Homo sapiens: one gene and its partners. The protein of the gene in region 2 purifies or fractionates together with the protein of the main gene of each other region. This does not show direct contact. Each region holds a gene or a part of one and is shown on either strand. Other genes may lie near its edges. The genes, in order: MKLN1, SPON1, GID4 and RMND5A.

The links.
Region 1: the proteins of SPON1 (region 2) and MKLN1 purify together in Homo sapiens (affinity purification with mass spectrometry; one large-scale study listed by BioGRID and IntAct). This does not show direct contact.
Region 3: the proteins of SPON1 (region 2) and GID4 purify together in Homo sapiens (affinity purification with mass spectrometry; one large-scale study listed by BioGRID and IntAct). This does not show direct contact.
Region 4: the proteins of SPON1 (region 2) and RMND5A purify together in Homo sapiens (affinity purification with mass spectrometry; one large-scale study listed by BioGRID and IntAct). This does not show direct contact.

The regions. Positions count from the first base shown.
Region 1 is NC_000007.14:131,397,099-131,401,518, reverse strand, and holds part of MKLN1 (muskelin), read right to left. Parts: intron 4,253-4,420; coding exon 4,143-4,252; intron 2,282-4,142; exon of another isoform or gene 2,279-2,281; coding exon 2,086-2,278; intron 1-2,085. UniProt on the Homo sapiens protein: Component of the CTLH E3 ubiquitin-protein ligase complex that selectively accepts ubiquitin from UBE2H and mediates ubiquitination and subsequent proteasomal degradation of the transcription factor HBP1.
Region 2 is NC_000011.10:13,968,699-13,973,118, reverse strand, and holds part of SPON1 (spondin-1 precursor), read right to left. Parts: intron 1-4,420. UniProt on the Homo sapiens protein: Cell adhesion protein that promotes the attachment of spinal cord and sensory neuron cells and the outgrowth of neurites in vitro. May contribute to the growth and guidance of axons in both the spinal cord and the PNS.
Region 3 is NC_000017.11:18,045,350-18,049,769, reverse strand, and holds part of GID4 (glucose-induced degradation protein 4 homolog), read right to left. Parts: intron 1-4,420.
Region 4 is NC_000002.12:86,767,871-86,772,290, reverse strand, and holds part of RMND5A (E3 ubiquitin-protein transferase RMND5A), read right to left. Parts: intron 2,269-4,420; coding exon 2,166-2,268; intron 734-2,165; coding exon 579-733; intron 1-578.

The DNA of each region.
Region 1 (4,420 bases), on a different chromosome or scaffold from region 2:
CCTTATTAAACTTTATCCTTCCCTTATCTCACAAAAGAAAATTTTTCTTTCTATAGCAAATAAGATAAGCTCAGCAAAGGGTGGATTTCAGTACAATCTCTACATGTCTGAGTAAAACATTCCTGTCCCTAGGTGATTACTTTTGCCTATCATCACTGGATCCTGCATGGGCAAAGAGGTAGTAGCAATTATTGGTTCCAAAATCACCTCTAATAAAATGAAATGTAAATACAGTGATGTTTCTAGACAAACAAAAAGCCTATTACAGAAATAAATAGAGCCTTACACTTTCTTAAAATACAGAAAATACTTAAAGATCATACTAAGTAATATACTAAAAATACTAAAAGTAGCTTTTGTATCCTCCATTACAAGAAGCTTGACAGAGACTCTTTTGATTCCCTAGATCTTCCTATTTAGCAGGCAGGAACTTCTTGTCCTTCTCTGCTATGTTTTTAATAGAGCAGAAGCCAAAAAACTCTGCACTGTTTACTTCCTTATTTGTCCAACAAATCATCATCAATGAGATCAGAAGCAAAGAGAACAACCCTGAAAGGAATGTTTATTAACTAACAGTGTTCCAGGCCAGTTTAGAAAGCCCATAGTATTCACAGTACAAAAACTATGATGTGGCTGTAAGTTTCAAGAATTGAGCAACTACTAATTTCTCTAAACTTGGTTCCTTTCTAGAGCCAAAGGATAAGTTAAGTCTCTGTAGATATCAAAACTGCACAAGATTTTTATCAGCTAATCTTAACCAACTGAGTACGTCACTAAAGAGACCTTTAAAATATAACTGTTTTTAGCTTATTAACTGTAGAGTTGCCTGTGGCTGTTGTTTTGCTTTCCCTTCACAAAATGGTATCAAATGCCTTACTGATAAATATCTGAAACAAACAAAAAAGCCCTAAAATTACCTATGCCTCCCTCATCTTATGAGGTTAAAAAAAACCCACAGAATTCACTCCTAGAAATGGCATATATATATATATATATATATTTTTTTTTTATTGGTAGCATTTTAAAGTCTGTTAAGAGATTAGTTATTTGTTTGTTTATACTCCAAAATATACTCAATTTCAAACATACCTATCATTTATTTGCAAGTATCATCATCAATCAAGTAAGCAATAACAATGCACAAGGCTTAGAAGCAGATTTGTCATATTTCAAAAAGTGGAGCTCAAAGCAATTCATTTTAAGTTAACTTTAAATTTATAAACTCAAGGCAGTACAAGTCTGGTTTTTTTTTAGCTACCCAATATCTGATAAATATGAATACCTAATAATAGACGATAATAACAGTGATAAAATTAAAATGAGAGCAAACCACTGAATAATCTATTATTTCTTATTTCTTCCTATAAAGGATGCACCAAATTCAATTCCACAAGTTTTATATTGTGCAACTATTCTGTTGTTTGTCACTATGAAAGTTACTGAGGAAGATTAAAAAAAAAAGTCATACTATAAGCAACAACAGAGTCCCTTTTTAGTTTAAATAACAAAACACATCAGACCTTAAAAATCCAAATGAGTGTTACCCTCCAAAGCCAATACCCTGGGAGATAATACAGATGTTCAACTATTCACATTTCTTTCAAAGCCAGACTACAGGTCACACAAGAAAATCAGCAATTATATAGCATTCACACCACAAGGAAGTTGTTTTCAATACAAATCTCCTTGTTCCTTATATATAATTGTTTACTAATAACATTTTTTATTATCTAGCCCCCCTTCTCCTCAAAACTACACTGTTAATGAATATTGGCTACCAATATCAAAATATTATTTCTGATACAGTTTAATGCTAGTTAATCATTTGTAAGTGCATGGTTTCCCAAGATGACAACTTAAATTTATATGTGAGTTCAAGTACATTTCAATTTTTTAAGTCTCATTACATCATGGATCTATTTTACATGAAAGAAGTCCCTAATCCAAAGAGATAACAATCTTTAACCGAGTAAAAAACCAAGAAAAAAAATTACAGTAATAACTGGCATAAGCCTATATTATTTTTGAGAAAAAGTTTCCCGTATGTACTTGAATTTACCCTAATAACCAATCTAAGTTTCATACCATTTACAGCCTTTTCAATCAACTCTTCGCAAGCATCAAAATCACCCTTCAACACCAGCTTGTCATGAATATCTGTTAACATGGGATGTTCCAGTGCAATCTTGGTTTTCTTTTGCAGTGACTCAAAAGCTTCTGTATAGTTGTGTTGTCTGAAGTGTTTTAGGCAAAGGCGAATAGCTTCCTGTTCACGGTACTACTAGAACACAGAGTAAGTATGGAAAGAAGAGATTTGGTTAGATGATACTGTAGGAAACAATAACAACAGTAAAAATAACTAATCTACACTGAGCATTTATTAACACTATGTGCCAAGCAGTTTACTAACCTGATTCATTAGGTATCATTATTTGGCTCTTTTAACTAGCAAAACTAAAGCTTGGCCTGTTCCAATAACTTGCTCAAGGTCACAAAATATGTAGCCAAAAGTTATTAAACCAAACCTAATTCCAGAGCCTCAACTTTGAAGAAAGGGAGAACATCTATTTCTTAAACTCCACTTAATACTGTAAAAATTATAACTCCATAGCATCTATTAATCCCATTACAATGCAGGTACTGAGAGCACAAAAGAACATTAAATAATCCACATAAATTATATTATGCTATTTTTGGTTTTTAAAAATAAACTATTACTTGAATGACAAGTATCAAGTATACAGATATTTCAAATTTACAAACACATTTTATGACTCAAAAATCATCAAAAAGAGACATTTAATCTTTTTTTTTTTCTTTCTTTTTTTGAGACAGGGTCTTGCTCTGTCTCCCAGGCTGGACTGTAGCGGCATAATCTCAGCTCACTGCAACCTCCGCCTCCCAGGTTCAAGCAATTCTGCCTCAGCCTCCTAAGTAGCTGAGCTTACAGGCACGCGCTACCACGCCCAGCTAATTTTTGTATTTTTAGTAGAGTCGGGGTTTCACCATGTTGGTCAGGATGGTCTTGAACTCCTGACCTCAGGCAATCTGCCCACTTTGGTCTCCCAAAGTGCTGGGATTACAGGTGTGAGCCACTGCGCCCGGCCCAATTTAATTGTTTTCTAAGCCTGAACTACCTCATCTATTAAGCAGCTATAAAGTAGACATCTCAATTAACTGGAATCCAAAAAGCAGGCACTTAATTTATTAAAATTTTCCCCTAATAGGATAGATGCCAAAAATACAATCTTATAAAAAGGATTTTTTTAAAAAAATCTCAACTTCAGGAATATGTTCTGGGACTACCTCAAACTTCCTAAGTATACCACTATTCAAACAAACAGATGACATGGAAGCCTGCATGATAATCAAACAACAATGATTTACTTATAGGCATGACCCTTTAATAAGGCAAGAAAATAATGTGTTTAGGAAGATGTATAAGATTTGAAACAAATCAGTTGATAGCTGACTTAACTAATAAAAGGTCATTAAACACCTAATCCTTACACGTTATAATTAACTATAATTAATTAACAACTTAATTATAATTAGTTAACTATAATTAACTTACTCTTGGCCTCTAAAAAAGACTTATCATAACTACCATGTAACAATATATATTACAGTTATATTAAACAGCAGTATTTTTTAACCCTGTTGACTACTTTAGGAGTCTAAATCACATCCACATCTTAAATTTTCCATTAGGCTGCAAAACTATCCCACTAAAAACTATGTTTTAAGTATTTATATGAATACAAGTGAAAAAACAAAATTCAGAGTCAAATGGGTATAATAACATAAAAGCAGACTGTGGAGCCAAACTGCCTGAATTCATATACTGGCTCAAACACTTTACAATTGTGTGATCCTAGGCAAACTATTTAATCTCTCTGTTCTTCATTTCTTCATCTATAAACTAATGGGGATAATAAGTGCACCTGTCTCATAGAGTGATAATGACTAAGTGAGTTATCAGGATTCCTTAAAAGCTGGCAGACTGGAAGTGCTTAATAAAATGTTAGCTAACTGTTGTTATTATTATTTTGAATATTTTAAATTATTCTCAATGAAGATAAGAGATTGACATATTTCTCCTTTTATAGGCATTAAAGTCAGGATTTAAAACACAGTCCTACCTTGCTATACCAGTTGAGACAAGGTTGTACTATATCAGGATCATCAATGCCACTAAGTTCAACATACCAGATGCTAAAGTTAAAGCTGGGTCCCCAGGACAAGAGTGGAACTTTAAGGAGAAAAAACAAAAAGAAGAAGAAAAATATTAACACAGTTCAAATAAAACTTTAGCAAAGTAAAAGCACTATTCAACCTTATAAGGATTCATTCAACGAATTTTCTGGGCATCTTTTATATGACTAGCATGGTGCTAAGGCTACAACAGTAAAACGAAACA
Region 2 (4,420 bases):
GAAGGTTGCTGGCAGCTATCCTCCCTGTCATTTGGAGAAAGTTTATCTGTAGTAAGAAAAAATGAGGGCAAAACACAGCCAAGAGATTGAGGATGGAAGGAGCAAGACAGAGAAGGTAGAAGCGAGGGACAAAAAGATAGAGCGAAGGAGGGAACGGGGGACAGAGAGAGAGAGAGAGATGGAATGACCCCATTTGAGTCACTAGACCCATTTATGCCTGAAGCAAGAGCCACCCCTGGGCTTTGCAAATATGGGAATCAGTGCATTCCCTTTTCTGCTTTAGTTAGGTTGACTTTGTTCCTATCACTTGCAGTGGAAAGAGTCCTGACTAATTTTGAAGCAAAGAAAGAAAACACTCTGCCTAAACTACAAGAATCACCAGCAGGCTCAGGAAACAGTATTCAGAACTAAACTGAGGTGGCTTATGCTGGGGGTGGCAGTTGGTATGTAAATGTCATTGGGATGACAGCAGATCTCTTGACTTCAAAACTATTTAGCTAAATATCAGCTTTAGAGAAAGACTCTAAGGAATGTCAGAGGGCTCTATCCTAGACTCTGAGTTGCTCAATATTCTTATCAACTTCATTGATAAAGACTTACAAGACCTTCTTATCAACACTGTGCATAATCCAAAATTAGATTATGTGAATAAATCACTCAGGGACCAAATACAGATTCATGAATGGCTGACAGCTACAGGGATGGATCCAAACATGCTGGATTAAATCTAACGATAAACCATGTCAAATTTTATGTTCAAGGACCATTTTCACCAGTCTAGGTTAAAGAGGGAAGCAGGCCTTCCAGAAAATTGCAAGAATTTGAGTTGGCTGCAAGCTCAGTGTGATTCCAGACTACGGCACAGCTGCCAAAATAGCAAACACAAGACCTGGCAAGCTTCACACAACCACAATGTCCAGGACAAGGAGATAATCATTCTATCATGTCCTGCCCCTAACAGACCACATCTGGGGCACAAAGTACAAGGGAGCAAGCAACTGCAACCCACAAAGAATGGTTAAAGAAATGGGGCATTTTAGTCAGAAGAGAAGCCATGACAGCTATTTATTCACAAACATCTCAAGGGCTGACATATGGCCCAGGGGAGACCTTATTTTCCTTGATTCCAAAGGACAGAACCTTGGACAGATGTGTGAAAGTTACATGGTAGGCAGACTTTGGTGGCAGAGAAGTACAAGCAAGTCAGCCCTGGCTCAAGCTTCGCCAGTCTGTGATTGTGGCCACCTAAGGAAAACTCATGGTTCTCTTCTCCCCATCACCCTACTGCCAAGCGGGAAATGTTGCAGTCATGTTGGCTTTGAGGATATTCCACTGGTCACTAAATGAGTGTGTCCCATAGTAACAGGATAGGGCAATGATGTGACCAGGTGCTAAAGTGTGTGGGAGGCTGGGGCTGGGGCTAGGAGAGGTGGTGATGGGGAAGCATGCTCATAGGAAAAGGGCCACCTTTTCTTTGTGTCTCATCATTTTCCTTTAAAAGAGTGAAAAAAGAAAGAAGAATATAAGATTCCTGGAATCCAGCCTTTTGTTAGGGTGGGGCCCAGGAAGTTTTTTTATTAAATTAAATTTTAGTTTAGTTTTTACACTCTCCAAAGGCATAGCTAGGTTTGGAAAGTACTACAAATGACTCCACAATGTGCTGGTTCTAGGGAATGTCACTTTAATAATTGATGTCTAGGTTTGATGGCTCAATAATCCCCTCAGGCCTACTTCTCCAGATACTCAGAGCCAGTTTCTCAGAGCCAGTTTCTGAGGTTGGCAGCCCCTTGCCTCTGCCCTTTTGCCTGCTGTTGCTCTGCTTTTCATGCCACAGCAGCAGCGTTTCAGCTTCCACCATGATGCAACTGCTCTCTCTTCCCTCCCAGTGGTCTGCACTCTGGACACAGGCCATCTGCCCTCAGCCTCTGGCCAACGCCCCTGTGGCACTGGCATCCTTTCTCTCTGCTGCCACCACCTGGAGCTCCTTGCCTCCTGTCTGCCATCCCTTGGGTGCTCACCTTTCTCTCTGGCTGAGAGAGAAATACCTTCCCCTTCCTCCATCCAGCTCTCTTAGAGAGCTCACACCAGGGTTCTTGGGGCTTCAATGATACTTTATTTTTTTCAACAAATAATGATTTAATGCCTGCTATGCCCAGGCACTGTTCTGGGAATTGAAGATAAAATGGCAAATAAGAAAGACAAAGTCTTTGCTCTCATAAAGCTTGTATTCTAGCTGTAGGAGGCAGACAATAAACGAGAGAATTTCAGAGAGTGTTTAAGGCTATGAAGAAAACAAAATCAGGCGAAAGTGACGGGAAACATAAATTGGTAGTGAGAGCAGCCTCTTTAAAGAGATTCCCTTAAAAGACAAGGAGTCAGCCATGCAAAGATCTGAGGACAACCATCCCAGGCATGAAGAGCAAGGATGAAGGCCCTGGGGAGCGAATGAGCTTAGTGTATTTGGAAAATTCAAAGGATAGTGTTGGCAGGAGTTGGGGGGAGGACAAGGAGGAGGAGGAGGAAGAGGAGGAGAAAAGAGCTTCCTGTAGCACCTAGAATCACCATTTGGTTCATCCTGCTGTGACTGTGCCCACCTGCCCACACTCCTGCCCCACAGATGGTGACTTGTTCTTGGAACTCTTCCCTGTTTCTCTCACCCAGTCCATGAGACATATTGGCAAATATCTCAACCACAACTGTAGAGAGGGTTCAAGTTATTTCCTATGGGTCTCCTAGCCTCAAGAAAATCAGTGGATGTGGGTAGGTCCCTTAAGTTTTCCTGAACATTTCATGGAATTTATGAATATTCTGCGAAAGGTAGAAGCCTGCTCTACATAGACCTCACAAAGGACTTCTAGTGGTCTCACTTAACTCCTTGCCCTGTCCTATCTGCACCCCAACTCCATCCCTGCCAAAACATTCTGTAAAAGTGGGGCATTTTATACCAGCAGGAGCTGACAAGCATCACAAAAAGCTTTTTATGTGATATAGCAAGCTTCCTGACACCATAGATGCTCCAAGAGAGGTGCATTTGGTAAAAATCAAACACAACTGCACACTATTGGAGGAGAAAAAACAGAGAATGTAATGCTTTAAATGATTTGGGCCACTTGCTACTCCATTCAATGCATGCATGTGCCTGAGTGAGCATGAGATGAGCCTCTCAGCTCCCTTACTCCATCACATGATGAAGATTTTGTACTTGCATGTCAGAGCAAACCAAGGGTTTATCTGCTACTCAACTGAGGAAACATTGCTCTCTTCCAATGCTGGAGGGAAACTAGAAGGGCTAGACTTATTGATACATGCCAATTCGTTTCTATTCCTCACTTACAGGAATATTGGGGGTAGGGTGTTTAGATAAGGCTAGGTTGAAGCTGGTATCTGGGTTATATCTTACGTATAATTTCAAAGGACTAATTTTGACTTATGTGATGTTTGCTTTCCATGGCTCTTCTTGTATCTAGCCCTGTAGTCCCATCCTAATGGGACTCTGCCATACTCAAATATTTTCTTTCATTTTCATTCTGAATGTATACCCCAGTGGGTTTTCATTTTTCTTTTTCTCTTCCCACACCACCCCTTTGTTTTCTTGATTTACCTTACCCTCATTCCTTTCATTCTTTGCTGCTTCCTCTTTTATTGAGAAAGGAGAATGAGACAAAACAAGCCACAACATAAGCTTGCACATACACACCCCAGCACTCCTGCCTCTGCTCTTTTTCCCTTCTTTTGAGACAGGGTCTCACTTTGTCGCCCAGGCTGGGTGCACTGGCACAATCTTCACTCACTGCAGCCTCAACTTCTCCAGCTCAAGAGATCCTCCTGCCTCAGCCTCCTGAGTAGCTGGGTCTACAGGTATGAGACACCACAGCCAGCTAATTTTTTTTTTTTTTTTTTTTTGTAGAGATGGGTTTTGCCATATTGTCCAGGCTGATTTTGAACTCCTGGGGTTAAGCAATCCACCTGTCTCAGCCTCCCAAAGTGTTGAGGTTACAGGTGTGAGCCACTGCATCTGGCTTCCTCTGCTGATTCTTAGCAGGAACATCAGTTTATATGTTGTCAAGTTGACCCACCTAGCTGACCTTTCACTGAGAAAGTAAGATATATTGTGTTTTTACATGACTATGCATGAAAATATGTGACAGAGACCGTTAATATGATCCTTAGAAATTTACTTTGTTTCATCTTTTTGAAAAATAAATTCTTCAAGTTTTAGCTGGGCATGTGGCTACCCAGCTAAATGCTATATTTCCCAGCCTTCCTTGCAGCTAGGTATGACCACATGACTGAATTTTTGCCAACGGAGTGTGTTTAGAAGTGCTGGGTGCAGTTTCTGGGTCACATTATTAAAAGAAAACTGAAGTCCTCTACTTCCTCTCCCCCCAGTCCACTGCATGCTGACTGAATACAGGTGTGC
Region 3 (4,420 bases), on a different chromosome or scaffold from region 2:
GCTACCTGGGAAGCTGAGCAGGAGAACTGCTTGAACCTGGGAGGCAGAGGTTGCAGTGAGCAGATATTGCACCACTGCACTCAAGCCTGGGCAACAGAGCGAGACTTCATCTCAAAAAAAAAAAGAAGGGAAGAACAGACAATGGGGCCTACTTGAGGGTAGAGGGTAGGAGAAGGGAGAGGAGCAGAAGAAATAACTATTCAGTACTAGGCTTAATACCTGGGTGACAAAATAATCTCCACAACAGTTACATAGGTAAACCGTGACATAAGTTTATCTATAGATCAAACCTGCGCATGTACACCCAAGCCTAAAATAAAAATTAAAACAAACAAACAAAAAAGCTGTGCTTGTTTGTGAATGTGAGGTAGCTAAGAGGCCATTTAGCTCCTTTTTTTTTTTTTTGACACTTATCTCCTTTTTTTTTTTTTTTTGACACGAAGTCTCACTCTGTTGCCGAGGTTGGAGTCCAGTGGCATGATCTGAACTCACCACAAACTCTGCCTCCTGGGTTCAAGCGATTCTCTTGCCTCAGCCTCCTGAGTAGCTGGGATTACAGGTGCCCGCCACCATGTCCAGCTAATTTTTGTATTTTTAGTAGAGATGGGGTTTCACCATGTTGTCCAAGCTGGTCTCAAACTCCTGACCTCAGGCGATCCAGCTGCCTCAGCCTCCCAAAGTGCTGGGATTACAGGCATGAGCCACTGTGCCTGGCCTATCTCCATTTTAGTAGATACTTTTCCATACTGTATACGTGAGGAAGGCAACTACTATGACTAAAACCCAAATTATAGTTTAATTAAAATAAATTAAAAATTTGATATTTTTGCCAGGCACGGTGGCTCATGCTTGTAGTCCCAGCACTTTGGGAGGCCAAGGTGGGTGGTTCATCTGAGGTCAGGAGTTCAAGACCAGCCTGGCCAACATGGTAAAACCCCATTTCTACTAAAAATATAAAAATTAGCCAGGTGTGGTGGCACATGCCTGTAATTCCAGCTACTCGGGAGGCTGAGGCATGGGAATTGCTTGAACCTGGGAGGTGGAAGTTGCAGTGAGCTGAGATCACACAACTGCACTCCAGCCCGGGTGACAGAGCAAGACTCTTCCTCAAAAACAAAAAATAAAAATAAAAAATTGATATTTTAACAAACATAAATGGAAAAGAAAAAAAACCCAAATACAGGTACAAAATTTATTCAAAGATTCATTGTAGTTTTCTGCATTTTACTATTATCTACGGCAACCATATACTAGACTTATAATTTTAAAAGTTATCAGGCTGGGTGCGTTGGCTCACGCCTGTAATCCCAACACTTTGGGAGGCCAAGGAGGGTGGACATTTGAGGTCAGGAGTTCGAGACCAGTCTGGCCAACATGGCGAAACCCTGTCTCTACTAAAAATAAAAGTTAGTTGGGCAGGGTGGCGCACGCCTGTAATCCCAGCTACTCGGGAGGCTGAGGCAGGAGAATCGCTTGAACTTGGGAGGCAGAGGTTGTGGTAAGGTGAGATCACACCACTGCACTCCAGCCTGGGTGACTGAGACTCTGTCTCAAAAAAAAAAAGTTATCGGCCAGGCGTGGTGGCTCACACATGTAATCCCAGCGCTATGGGAGGCCGAGACAGGCGGATCATGAGGTCAGGAGATCGAGACCATCCTGGCTAACACGGTGAAACCCCATCTCTACTAAAAATACAAAAAAATTAGCCGGGTGTGGTGGCGGGCACCTGTAGTCCCAGCTACTCGGGAGGCTGAGGCAGGAGAATGGCGTGAACCCAGGAGGCGGAGCTTGCAGTGAGCCGAGATTGCACCACTGCACTCCAGCCTGGGTGACTGAGCGAGACTCCATCTCAAAAAAAAAAAAAAGTTATCACATAGTTGCACAACTTTGTGAATACACTAAAAACCAATGAACTGTATACTTCAAATGGGTGAAATGTATGGTATGTGAATTATCTCAATAAAGCTACTAAAAAACATTATTTAAAAAGAATTCTTCTACATCTAAGGCCTGAGCAGGACTTGCTTTAACGCAACACCCCTGCAGCAGCATAACGTGGTCTATTTATTGCTGGACCAGGAACAGGCAACTCTGGGGAGGGTATGTGCTCATCGAGGCCACGCCATCTGCAGAGGTTCTGTTAAGAGCCTAGGGCTCCCCTTGGGTTAGCCCCCATTGAAGGGCCATTGTCAGTGCCCCCTCCTCAAAGGAGCCTGACTGCTGCTCTCGACTCACGGGGGCTTCCTAAAGGAAGGGCTACTTGTTCCCGATGGAGAGCTCAATGCCATTAGCATTTCTGTATACTTCTTCAAGATTTCGAATGCTACTTACCATTTCTGTGCAGCTTGTTATCACCCAAATGACTGGTTTTGGAGTCAGCGTTAACATTCCAATGCCTTACACACTTGCTGGTTTCCTTATGAAATTCAGTGTTTATGTTCTGCACCCAGTTAACTAATGTATTTGGCTACCTGAGAGTTGAGCATATTCTGTTTTAGTATCTTTTCTCCTACCACAAACCCAAAGGCTGGAATCCTGTATTTTGCTATCACTTCTACTCCTACTTGATTTGATACAATTCTCGAGTTAAAGAAGAAATACCTTTGGTCTCAACAACAAACTTCATAGGAGATCCTTAATCAGTTAAGCTTCTAATAGAAAAGCAGATAGGAACCAGGAGCCAGAAACTTGTCTTAAGACTGAGGCTCATCAGGACTTTACAAGAGAATCACATATTAGTACCATATTTGAGTCTGTCATTTTCTCTAACATTCTTTCCTTACCCCCAGAACAAGTCCACTGATTGTCTTAGACAGAGCAGGGATTTTTTTTTTTTTTTTTTTTTTTGAGACAAAGTTTCGCTCTTGTTGCTCAGGCTGGAGCGCAATGGTGCAATCTTGGCTCACTGCAACCTCCGCCTCCCGGGTTCAAGCGATCCTCCTGCCTCAGCCTCCTGAGTAGCTGGAATTACAGGTGCCTGCCAACATGCCCAGCTAATTTTTATATTTTTAGTAAAGATGGGGTTTCACCATGTTGACCAGGCTGGTCTTGAACTCCTGACCTCAGGTGATCCATCCACCTCAGCCTCCCAAAGTGCTGGGATTACAGGTGTGAGCCACCACGCCCGACCCCAATTTTTTTTTTTTTTAAAGAGAGAGGATCTTCCTAGGTTGCCCAGGCTGGAGTGCAGTGGCTATTCACAGGCATGATCACAGCACATTGCTGCCTTCAAATCCTAGCCTCAAGCGATACTCCAGCCTCAGTCTTCTGAGTAGCTAGGACTACAGGCACACAACACCATGCCTGGCTAATTTATTAAAAATTATTTGTAGCGACAAGGTCTTGCTATGCTGTCCAGGCTGGTCTTGAATTCCTGGCCCCAAGTGATCCTCCTGCTTTGACCTCCCAAAATGTTGGGATTACAGGTGTGAGCCACAGCACCCAGCCTGGAGCAGGAATTTTTAATTCTCAACTTCGCAGATGAGGACACTGAAAGAAGTTAAAGGTCACAGATGCAGGAAGGGGCAGAAGAAGAATGCCACCCCAGCTCCTTTCCACTGCCCCATCCAGCACAGCACTCTGTCCAAATACTGCTGGATCATCAGACCATGAGAGCTGACAAAGGCCAGAGGCCCCCTGCAGCTAGGTCCAGCCTGGGCATTCCCAGCATTCGGAGGGCCAGTCCAGCTACCTCCTTCCACTTCCTGTTTCCTTGCTAATGGAAAAGAAAGGATGCTCCTCCTTGCTTTCTAAAGTCCCAGGAGTTCTGAGGTTTAAAAACTTGGTTCAAAGAAAATAAAATACTCTGCACAGCAGGTACTTCTGCTGGAAACTAGATGGTCACTTCCCCTTTTTTTTCTTTCTTTTTTTTTTTTTTTGAGACAGGGTCTTGCTCTGTTGCCCAGGTTGGAGTGCATGGTGATCTTGGCTCACTGCAACCTCTGCCTCTCTGGTTCAAGTGATTCTCTGTGCCTCAGACTCCCAAGTACCTGGAACTACAGGTCTGTGCCACCATGCCCGGCTAATTTTTTTTTTTTATGTTTAGTAGAGATGGGGTTTCACCATGTTGGCCAGGCTGGTCTCCCTACCTCAAGTGATCTGCACACCTCAGGCTCCCAAAGTGTTGCGATTACAGGCATGAGCCACCGCGACCAGTCAGTAACTTTTCATTGTTCCAATTAACTAAGAGGCTTAAAGAACTTAAAAGCTCATTTTTTATAGGACTGATGCTTATCTCAGAAACTGTTAAACTTATGATGAGGGTGGCAGCTATATTCTTATTATTTTTTCCCCCAAAAAGGATTAAAAATAAAATCAATAGTGTTGGTTGTGACAATTATGATGTACTTATAAACTTTTCTTTAAAACATTTGTGAATCTGTACACTTCTCAACAGGACACACTGAAACTGCCTGTTTTA
Region 4 (4,420 bases), on a different chromosome or scaffold from region 2:
TTTTTAGTAGAGATGGGATTTCACCGTGTTAGCCAGGATGGTCTCAATCTCCTGACCTCGTGATCCGCCTGCCTCGGCCTCCCACAGTGCTGGGATTACAGGCATAAGCCACCACACCTGGCCTTCACTTAGCACTGTTTAGAGAAACAAATGTTCATCAATAGGGAACTGGCTACCCAATCATATTTCTATACAGTAGAATATACTGCAGCTTTAACAAAAAAATAATGAGGGCTGTTTCTGCAGCACAGAAAAAGATCTCCAAAATACATCACTAAGTGAAAACAGCAAAGTACAGAACATTTTTTAGTATGCGACCATTTGTATAAAAAAGGGGAAAATCTATCACCTACCCCAAAAGTTAAGTTAAAGACATGCTTATAAATCTAATCACCAAATCCATAGACACATTAAAAATACTCAAATCAGATACCACCAACTTTGCCAAATGAATAGTTAAGAAATTTATTTAGTTCTAAATCTAGCTACATTTTTTTAATCCTCATCACTTCTTATCCTCCTACCAAGTTCCAAAACAAAATTTATTTGCTAACATTTTTTAAAAGTCAGACACTTACTTGCTACCATTAAACATTTTATTCAGGGCATCTCTTGATATAATATGACCACAGACCAATTTCATGGGTGGATTGTTATCTGTTGTTTGCTGACGAAGAATGGGGCAGGCAAATATAGAGTGATACCAGCACTTTTTACCAAGGTCCACTTCAATCTGTTAAAAAAAAAAAAAAAAGTAAAAAAGCTGAAGTCATATTTCACAAAACCATCCACATGGTAATATACACTGTGCAGCAAAGAACATTGATCAGATCTATTCACCTGAATGTAACTTTCTATAGCACTCTTCTAACTCAGATGGACAGTCTTAGTGATTCAAAGTGTTAAATTAGCCTTCAAGATTATTTTCAAGAAAGCTGACAAAGTGTAAAAACAAGTCTGACAAACAATGACCTGATCACCACCTCTAATGGCTTTACTGGCTTGACACACAGTCTTTAGGTGAATTCAGATTTCAGTCTGCTCTTAGTGCATGTCAGAGATGCTTACAACATAAATGGGAAACTGCCAGATGCCAGGCACCTGCCTCCACAAAACAAGTGAAGGCTCAAGTTCTTTTCACTTGTTCAAGTTAGCGGCAGTAGAGCAGGAGTGCTACTTGTGTCCTGACCACACTCAGGACCAGGACTGCACCTGTGCCTTTAATCAGAAAAGATCTTTGAGGAGAAGCTGGGGCAACCAACTGACAGGGTTACCTGCTGGAAGAACAAGGTAACTGCAAATAAACCCGTGTACAGGTGTGGTATAAAACGGGCAAAAAAACAAATGCGTATGTTAGCTTTTCAGGGTCTGTGACACAATCATGACAGGAACGACAATTCCAGGCCAGAGCCTCAGTGCCTGTCAGAGACCTGGTGGAAACATACATACAATGACCTTCGCCACTTCACATCATAACTGCACCATGGCAGCCACAATTTGAGTGCCTACCATGTATCCCGTCTTATTCTAAGCATGCTTATGTTATCTCTAGCCTTCAGCAGCCCCATAAAGAGAAAGCTGGTGCTTGTCTTAGAGATGAATACACTACTGCTTAGAGAAGTTCTAGAGTTGGCAAGTGATCGTGCTGATGTTTAAAACCATGGTCCTTTCCATGAGAGCAGTAGAAATACAGTACTAGAGACCCACTGATGACTGCAGGTGTTACGACCTTTAAGAGCTCTATACTTATTCTATTGGCAAATGTAACCAGCACAAACTCGTGATCTTATCGACAGCAATAGTTAAGACAAAAGTAAAACCAATTAAATTTGCGTTTATATTAGAAAAACAATCACAGGAGTGGTCTGTGAACTGCACTGCAGAACACACTGCCTGCTACTGTATGTACAGCCCTCCCCACTTCTGATGTTTCCCTTCACCAGCTTTCAAAGGCACTTCAAGTCAAAATTATAATACTCCTCCTCCAGGGTCCCCAAAATGTACTAGGCTCTTCATTTGTATTGTTTAATCTTTTATATATCCATAAAAGAACTCCTGTCAAATGGCTACAATGTTTCCTGGTTAAAAGGTAAGATGAACATTTAAAGATGCCATATTCTTCTAATGGCAGTAAAAGTAAATAGCCAATAGAAAATGGAACTCACAGGTAATTCATCTTTCTGGTTCCAAACTCCAGTACACTGCCTCTGTTCAATCACGGCTTTGATGTTAATTAAAGCTGGCAGCGCCACACAACCTGCTGAGAAACTGGGAGAGCAGAAGAGGAAACGTCAGTGCCAGGCCAGGGGTCAGGCCGCTTGGTCCAAGGAGACATCAATTTCTCCAGACTCTATGTGCTGCAGACCCTGGCCACTGGACAGGGTGAGAGCTTTCTGTTCTGCTAAAAGTAAATCCAGCCATTTCCACTAGAAGAGAAATAACTTGTTTTCCCTCCCCTTCTTCCCCAGGCCCACTGGTATATTTCCTGAAGTTACTGAAAACCAATCCCAGTTAAAAAACAAAACAAAAAATAAAACTCTAAATTTTCTAAATAAACCTCACCAATATGGGGGTAAATGCAGTTAAAGAACGCAAACGTTAAAAAAAAAAAACTCATCTGCTAGGGTAATTTAACTTTAGCTTACTTCCTCAGAAAATAGAAAAATAAAGTTTTAAAACATGCATTTTAAAAAAGAAAGCAGCTTTGGAGAACCAATTAATTCAAATGAAGAGCAGGAATTAAGAACTACTACACTCTTCCAAATACAGTAGTTTTAGCATCTGAGTTTGAAGGAAAAAGAGATGTTCTTGCACAAAATTCTTCACTCAGCAATATACAAGACATAACTTCCTTTCCTATTCCCTTCCTTACAGACCATATACCACCAGACTTATTTTTCTTACAAAATGTGCTCCAAGGTATACGCTAATTAGAACAATGATACTCAAAATGTGGTCTGCAGATGGTGCTGATTTACACACCATTTTCAATCCACAGGAAAGAAGTACAGAATTGAGAATAAGGTTTTTAGAGAATTTAATAACAGCAGATGGTGGTGGCTCACTCCTGTAATTGCAGCACTTTGGGAGGCCAAGGTGGGAGGATTACCTAAGTTTGAGAGTTTGAGACCAGCCTGGGAAACACAGTGAGACCCCCGTCTCTACAAAAGATATAAAAATTAGCCATTAGCCAGGTATGGTAGCATGTGCCTAGAGTCCCAGCTACTGAGCAGGCTGAGGTGGGAGGATGCCAGGAGGTTGAGGCTGCAGTGAGCCACGATCGTGCCACTGCACTCCAACCTGGGCAACAGAATGAGACCCTGTTTCAAAAAGTAAAATATAAAGAATTTCATAATAATCTTACATTAGTGCCAAAAAAGGTTTTATATTGCACAAAACAACTGGATTTAATGGGCTCAGCTTATCAGTCAAATGACATGCTTGCTCCTGAAACATTTTTTTTGCATAGTTCCTCTTATCCCCAGATCACCCCTGTCCAGGGTGGAAGCACTCATTTCTCAGATCTGGAAGTGTTGGCAGCCAACTCTCAGCTGTGTCCGTCTCTTCAGGACTGTCCTCAGTTGAAGAGAGTCATCTGACCAGAGTCACATCCAGCAATTGCTCCATGTGAGGGTACAAAACCCCAGCCCTATAGGCCCAATTTGGGACAACTCCACGGGCCCACAGCAGCTCCAGAGCTCCTCACGGATGGGAGACACCTTGTTGCCACTCTAATACAGTCCAACTTTCCTCTCTGCCCAATCCTGCTGTTTTCATTCTCCCACAGGTGCTGATGTCAGTAAACTTTCTGCATGTACATTCCCACTTTAGAGTCTTCCTCAGAGAACTTGATGGCATCAGCGCCTCACATTATAGCTAATTGCATCTGTCCACTCCTACGCTAGGATGGAGCACCCTGTGGAATGCACCTTATTCATCTTCATATCCAACACAGTGCCCACAGTGCCTGGCACATAGCAGGTATGCAAAACATTTGTGGAATTAAATGAATAGAAGAGCTAAAAAAGAGTTATTTTCTTACAACAGTTTCTTAAAATGTTTTGGTTTCAGGACCCCTTTATATGCTTAAGTATTAAGGATCTCAAAGAGCTTTTCTTTTTGTGGATTATATCTTTAATACATTAGAAATTAAAATGAGAAACATAAAAGGTGCCGATTAGTTCATGTAAAAATAAAATACCATGCCATTATTGCAAACATTCTTATAAAAAAATAACTACAGTTTCCAAAACAAAAATATATGTGTGAGAAGAGTGGCACTGTTCCAAACTCTCACAACTCTCCTGAATGCCTACCTTAACAGAAAGACAGCTGGATTCTTATAGTTTACTCTGCATTAAATCTATTGTGATACGTTCTTCTGGTTGAGGTAAATGAAAAAAAACCTTGTTTCACACAT